2 separate regions of the Homo sapiens genome follow, and region 1 is linked to region 2. The links come from fine-mapping of genetic effects on gene expression. A gene starts in region 2. The other region holds a variant in brackets. All regions are shown on one strand. Distances are between the middles of the regions. Region 1 holds the start of LOC101927950 (a long non-coding RNA gene). Region 2 holds the start of F13A1 (coagulation factor XIII A chain).

Region 1 (2,912 bases), 630 kb after region 2:
AAATATTTGTGGAATAAATAAATGCTGAGTCAAAGAGTGTGTATTTTCAGTTTTAATATAGAGTTGTACCGATTTGCATGTCCACAGACAATGTAGATGGAGGGTACCTGTTGTCCTGCACGCTTGACAGCACTGAACATTATCCACTTCTAAAATCTTTGTCAAACCTACAGCTGAAAATGTCATTTGCAGCAAATAATTTGTATTTCTCTAATCATGAGTGAGGCTGAGCATCCTGTCCCATGTTCACAGCAGTCTGTATGTCTCGTGCTCACCGACTGTTGAAGAGTTTTTTGTTATGTTTTAAAAAATTGGCCTTTTATCACAGCCTGGCAGTCTCCTTCCCCACCCACTAGTTTGTTATACATTCCTGATCCAATTTTTTGGTGCGGTTTGTTGAGCAGAAGCCTTAAATGTTTACGTGGCTAAATTAATCACTCTTTTCCTTTATGGCTTCTGAGTTCCCCATTAGGTTTACTTTTCCAAGAAAGGAAGAACTGCTTCTAATTTAATCTCTATAATCAGCTGAGAGTAGTTGGAGAGGCTGGGTCCATTACTTATATATGGTGTGACCTTCTACAAGTTACTCATCCTCCCAGAACTTCAATTTCCTCATCTGTAAAATTGGGATAATAAAAGTGCCTTTAAAGGCTTCTCGTCAAGACCAAGTAAAATAATGTGGTTACAACTGAGTGCACGGCACACAGGAAGTGTTCAGTAAATGGTGGCTTTACTTCCCTGAGATTTTAAACACCATCACCACTTAACAGCTCCAGCAAATGAGTCACAGACATGTGGCAAATTCCTGTTTCTCTGGAAGGCAGAGAAAGCACTGGGAATGACAGCGTACCGCCCGTGGGCCAGTCCCTGGCTTGCTGTGGCACTGCCACAAATGCTGCTGTTGTGTAACTTCCTAGGAAGCAGGATTAATTCCTAGCATGGATCTTAAGTCACTCTGGGATCTAAGAGATGTTTCGATCATTCTGGGATTTATGCTTCTTGAAAAGGCTCAGGACAAATGGCAGTGAAGGCTACGTGGATACACAGTTTGTGGGTAAGCACAGCGTCATCACCTTAACTTTCATGAGAATGAAAAGAAGAAATTGCTCAAGAAAAAACCAGAATTGAGACAAGAAATACAAGTGTAAAAGCTTACATGGCATTTATATATATCTGTTTTTTTCTTTTAGAGATGGGGTCTTGCTCTATCACCCAGGCTGTAGTGCAATAGTGTGAGCATAGCTCACTGCGGCCTCGAACTCTTCCAGGGCTCAAACGATCCTCACACCTTAGCCTCCCCAATGGCCAGGACTACAGGTGCGTGCCAGCAAGTTTGGCTAATTTTTTTTTTTTTTGTAGAGGTGTGGGGGGTTCTCACTATGTTGCCAGGCTGATCTCAAACTCCCGGCCTGAAGCAATCCTCCTGCCTAGGCCTCCAAAGGGCTGGGATTATAGGTATGAGCCACTGCACCTGGCCGTTACATGGCATTCCATATAGGATTCCTCCTTTTTCAAATGAGAACTCATAGGCACTACACATTGCTGAGTCCTTTAGAACATAGAGAGAAATATATACACCTGGTTGAAGGTCGTGCTGAATATTCACACTCGGTCTCTTATCTGATTCTATTTATCATGGCTAAATAGGTAAAAAATATATAAAATATAAAAACTCCTCCAAAGAACTCAATTATTTAAAAAGCTGCTTACTTTAACAG[A/G]GAACAGAGTCAAACTTTAACCAATTCTTATATGAAGGAATCTACTTTCCCCATAATTTCTAATCAATGTAACCTTCTATTATTCAGGAAAAAAGGTAGCCTAGATCTAAGGTATCATGATGTAACTGATTCAGAGTGGCAGTAGCTTTTTTGGTTGAATTTCAATTTCCAAATAGCTAGAAAACACTCCTGTTGGCTACCTGTTGTTAACTTAGCATCAAGACTGCTGCTCAGGTACCAGGCCTAGCATACACTGACCTTAGCTACTATAAGAAATGCTAAGGATTAGCTATATTCCTATTAACATGTTTTCAGATGTGTTTTCACCAGAGAACTCAACTTGTTTATTTCCTACAGAAACCTCTACATAGAGCACAGCACAATCTCTCAAATACAGCAGCAATGCTATCATCCAACTTACATGATCTTCCAGTGCGGCTTTGACAATCCTCCCTTTGAGAGGCGCAGGCTATGACCTCTTGCCTTGAAAATGGGTGGGCTTTTATGACTGCTCCCGCTAGTAGAGGGCGGTGGAAATGATGCTATGTGACTTCTGAGGCTAGGTGACAAAGATAGCGGAGCTTCCACCTGCTGACTTGCACACTTGCTACCATATAAGGAAGCTAACAATTCAGAAGACACTGCAGTAAGGAAGGCCAGGCCGCTTGGAGAGGTGAAATGTTCTCCAGCCATCACCCCAGCAAGTCCCAGCAGCCAGCCAGCGTCCAGTGCCAGATGTGTAAGTAAAGATGCCTCATCCCAGCCTAGCCAAGCAGTCACTCCCAGTCTTCGAGTCTTCCCAGACAAGGCCCCAGCATCACAGAATGGAGACAAGGACACGTGAGCACAATAAAATCAGTGCTTTATGTCACAAAGTTTTGAGGCAGTTTGTTACATGGCAATAGATAACCAGATTTTTACTCTAGGTTTACTTGAAAACAGGCCACCTTGCAACTGCTAAGGATAAATGATTCCCCAAAGCAGTGCAAAACTTCTGCAGAACAATGCAAACGCATTAGCCGCCTTGCCCATTAATATCCTGCTCAGCAGCCACGCTTTGGGAGGCAGTCGTTCATCTCTCCCTCCCTACATCAAAGCTAAGCAATGGATTCCCCATAAGTCATCAGGCTGCTCCAGGATTAGTGGTGAGGGGGCAGATCTGGTGAGGGTTTTCTGAAAATAAAGTAAAATATT
Region 2 (2,912 bases):
GAAGCCTGGTTTGGAGATGCAGAGGGAGGAGGGACCTTTCCAACTTCAGTAACAAGAAGAAAGAGGAAAAGATAGATAAGGTTGCAGGCAGGTTCATAGATTGGTAGCAGAAAATTGAGAGAATTTCTAACCAATGGCATCTTTTTTTTTCTTCTTTATAACATTGGGAGATTGAGTGGCAGGGTCAGAAATTTGAAGACAGTAAAGAAGGTTAGAAATAGCCATGTTTGACTGGGTGCGGTGGCTCACGCCTGTAATCCCAACACTTTGGGAAGCCAAGGAGGGTGGATCACCTGAGGTCAGAAGTTCGAGACCAGCCTGGCCAACATGGTAAAGCCCCATCTCTACTAAAAATACAAAAATTAGGCGGGCATGGTGGCATGCACCTGTAGTTCCAGCTACTTGGGAGGCTGAGGCAGAAGAATCACTTGAACCCGGGAGGTGGAGGTTGCACTCCAGCCTTTGCAACAGAGCAAGACTTCATCTGAAAGATAGAAAGATGAAAGAAAGAAAGAAAGAAAGAGTAAAAGAAAAAAATTAAAATTTTAGGGGGAAAATTTTCTAATTTTTGAACATGCACTAAAATGATTTTCAGAGAAAACCAAGTGTTATTTTCTAATCTGCATGGCATTATTAAAGATGTTTACTCATCTTCCTTGGGGCTAGGCATCCCATTCCTGCAGGAAGTCTTGTGGTTAGGCGGTGGCTGTGGCTCTGGGATGATTCAGGAATGCAGACCATGCCTTATTTGCACAGGAGGGACACGTTGCTCTCACTGCATGCATGGTCACAACTGTCTGTGTGACCTGTCTGTGGGAGGGCAGACCCCCCTCCTGCCAAGCCACAGTAGCAGCTGACCTGCCAGGCAAAAGCATTCCTTTGTAAAGGAAACCCTCCCAGACCCTCTGACCAAAGGGGACGGGTGGGGACTTCCTGGCACTGCAGGGCCCCTTGCCTGGTACTCCCAGCAACTGGTTGCGGTGGGGAGGGCAGATCTAGGGATGGGGATGGGGAGGAGAAGTGGGAATGGGAAATTGGGAGTCAGAGGGGCAAGTGGGAGAGAAGGGCGCACCTGCCGGGATAACAGGCCAGATGAAGTAAATAGAAAATCCTCTGAGCTCCCCTACTGGCTCCAGCTGTGGAGAAGGGGGAGGAGAAAACCCTGTGGGACAGGGGAGGAGGGTGAGGGCTCCTCTTAGGAAGTTATTTAAGAGCCAACTGTCTTGTCTTTCCCGAGTCCGTTTGAGGAAGTCCCCGAGGCGCACAGAGCAAGCCCACGCGAGGGCACCTCTGGAGGGGAGCGCCTGCAGGTAAGCCACCGACCCTGCACCCTATGAGCCAGGGCCCGCTGCGTCCACCTTCTGCACCTCGGTTTCCTGGTTGAACCAGCAAGCGGCTTGCTCTGGGCCCTGTGGCGCCGGTCACAGGCAGCTCCACTTGCCCAATCCTGGCTTCCCGCCCCCAACTCCGCACCTGCCCAGCCCAGCTTCTAAGCGGGACTTCTCTCAGGCTCTCGAGGCAGCTCTCCCGAAGCCGTTGCTTGCTTAGAATGCCACCAAATGGGGATGGGGGAGTTGGAGGTGCTTCCCCAAGGGACGAGCCCCCTTTCCTCAGGGAGCAGATTATGGAGCTGGAACACAAAAGGTGGAGGGAGTGGGGCCAAGTGAGAACAGCCTGCTAGACTGGAACCCCGCCGGCTTGGCTCCCCACTCCTGCGCGCCTCCCCACTCCTGCGCATCGCCTGCCTCCGTCCCAATTTGGAGCTGAACTCGAGCCACTTCTCCTCCTTAGACCCGCCCAGAAGCGAGGGCTCCTGCCCGCCGCACTCACCCAGCCAGGCGTGCACCTGGGGCTCCCCCCTTCTCCCCCTTAGCACTGTGTCTCCCGACAGCGCGCCACACTGTTCTGCACCCCTGGCAATGCCGCAGCCTACCTTCGGTATTTCTCACTAGAGGATGGCTCTCGCAGCCTTCTCCCTATCATTAACCCTTTTTCGCTCTTCTCCCTCCCTTCCCCCGTCAGCTCACCAATGACTGTAAATATATTTATCTATACTTATGGATACCCATTCACACCTTATGCATCCAAACACTCCTGTCTCCTTCTCAGACCAGACACCTTAGGCGTGGTTGTCTTTTCTCCAGCATGTTGTTAGTGCTCCACATGTCTCTGGAACCATCTCTCTACTCTGGTGGCCTCTATAATGGGGACTCTTCACCTCTTGGGGGTGTGCCTGGTTTTTGAAAATAGCCAAGTCTCCAGGAGTCATGACTGGGTAATCCAGGGGATCAAGGGGGAACCTTCACTGGGCCCAGAAACAAAGTCCCCCTTCATTTGGTCATTTGGTCAACAAGTACTTACTGGGCACTGACCGTCAGGTGTGTGTTGTTTAAACTGGCTCAGTGCCTGCACAAGCTCCAAGGGAAGGGGAAGCAGGCTTGGGGAATGGGAAATGTTGGCAACCCTGACTTCTTAAGCCTATTGATAGCCCTATTGAAAATTGCATGCCCAACCTCTCCACCTCCTTATCCTCCTCCATGTGGCTCAATTTCCAAAGCAGTTCCTACCTCCTCACCCCTAAGTGGATTTACTTATGGCTCTTCTTGGGCTCCACCCTAACCCTATCAGACTATAATCTATCAGAGCAAACATTCTGTTTTGTTCTCTGATGTATCCCATGTACCTAGATCACAGCCTGGCATGTCATAGGCCCTCAATAAATATTGGTTGAATTAAATTGCAAATGTAAACGCTTTAGAAGACAACATTTGTCTGGACATGGTTGTGTGCGTTTATTCTTAAAAGTGACTTATAATCTCATAAATCTGTATGAAATGAACATAGATACAGCACATGCATATAACAGGAAACATTTCTTGCGAAGATGCTGCTGTAGGATTATGGAGGGTGGG

The links. PIP is the estimated chance that this variant, and not a neighbour inherited with it, causes the effect.
Region 1: its variant is fine-mapped to the expression of F13A1 in monocytes after LPS (Fairfax 2014, PIP 0.95).

Annotation. Positions count from the first base shown.
Region 1 is chr6:5,693,287-5,696,198 of GRCh38, reverse strand. The region is part of intron 6 of FARS2 (phenylalanyl-tRNA synthetase 2, mitochondrial); the gene reads right to left. LOC101927950 (a long non-coding RNA gene) reads left to right here and starts at 927. Exons shown (of 4, transcript NR_110842.1): 1 at 927-1,054; 2 at 1,191-1,317. The variant A/G (reference allele first, on the strand shown) is at 1,719.
Region 2 is chr6:6,318,985-6,321,896 of GRCh38, reverse strand. F13A1 (coagulation factor XIII A chain) reads left to right here and starts at 1,235. Exons shown (of 15, transcript NM_000129.4): 1 at 1,235-1,310. The region is part of intron 1 of LOC124901253 (a long non-coding RNA gene); the gene reads right to left.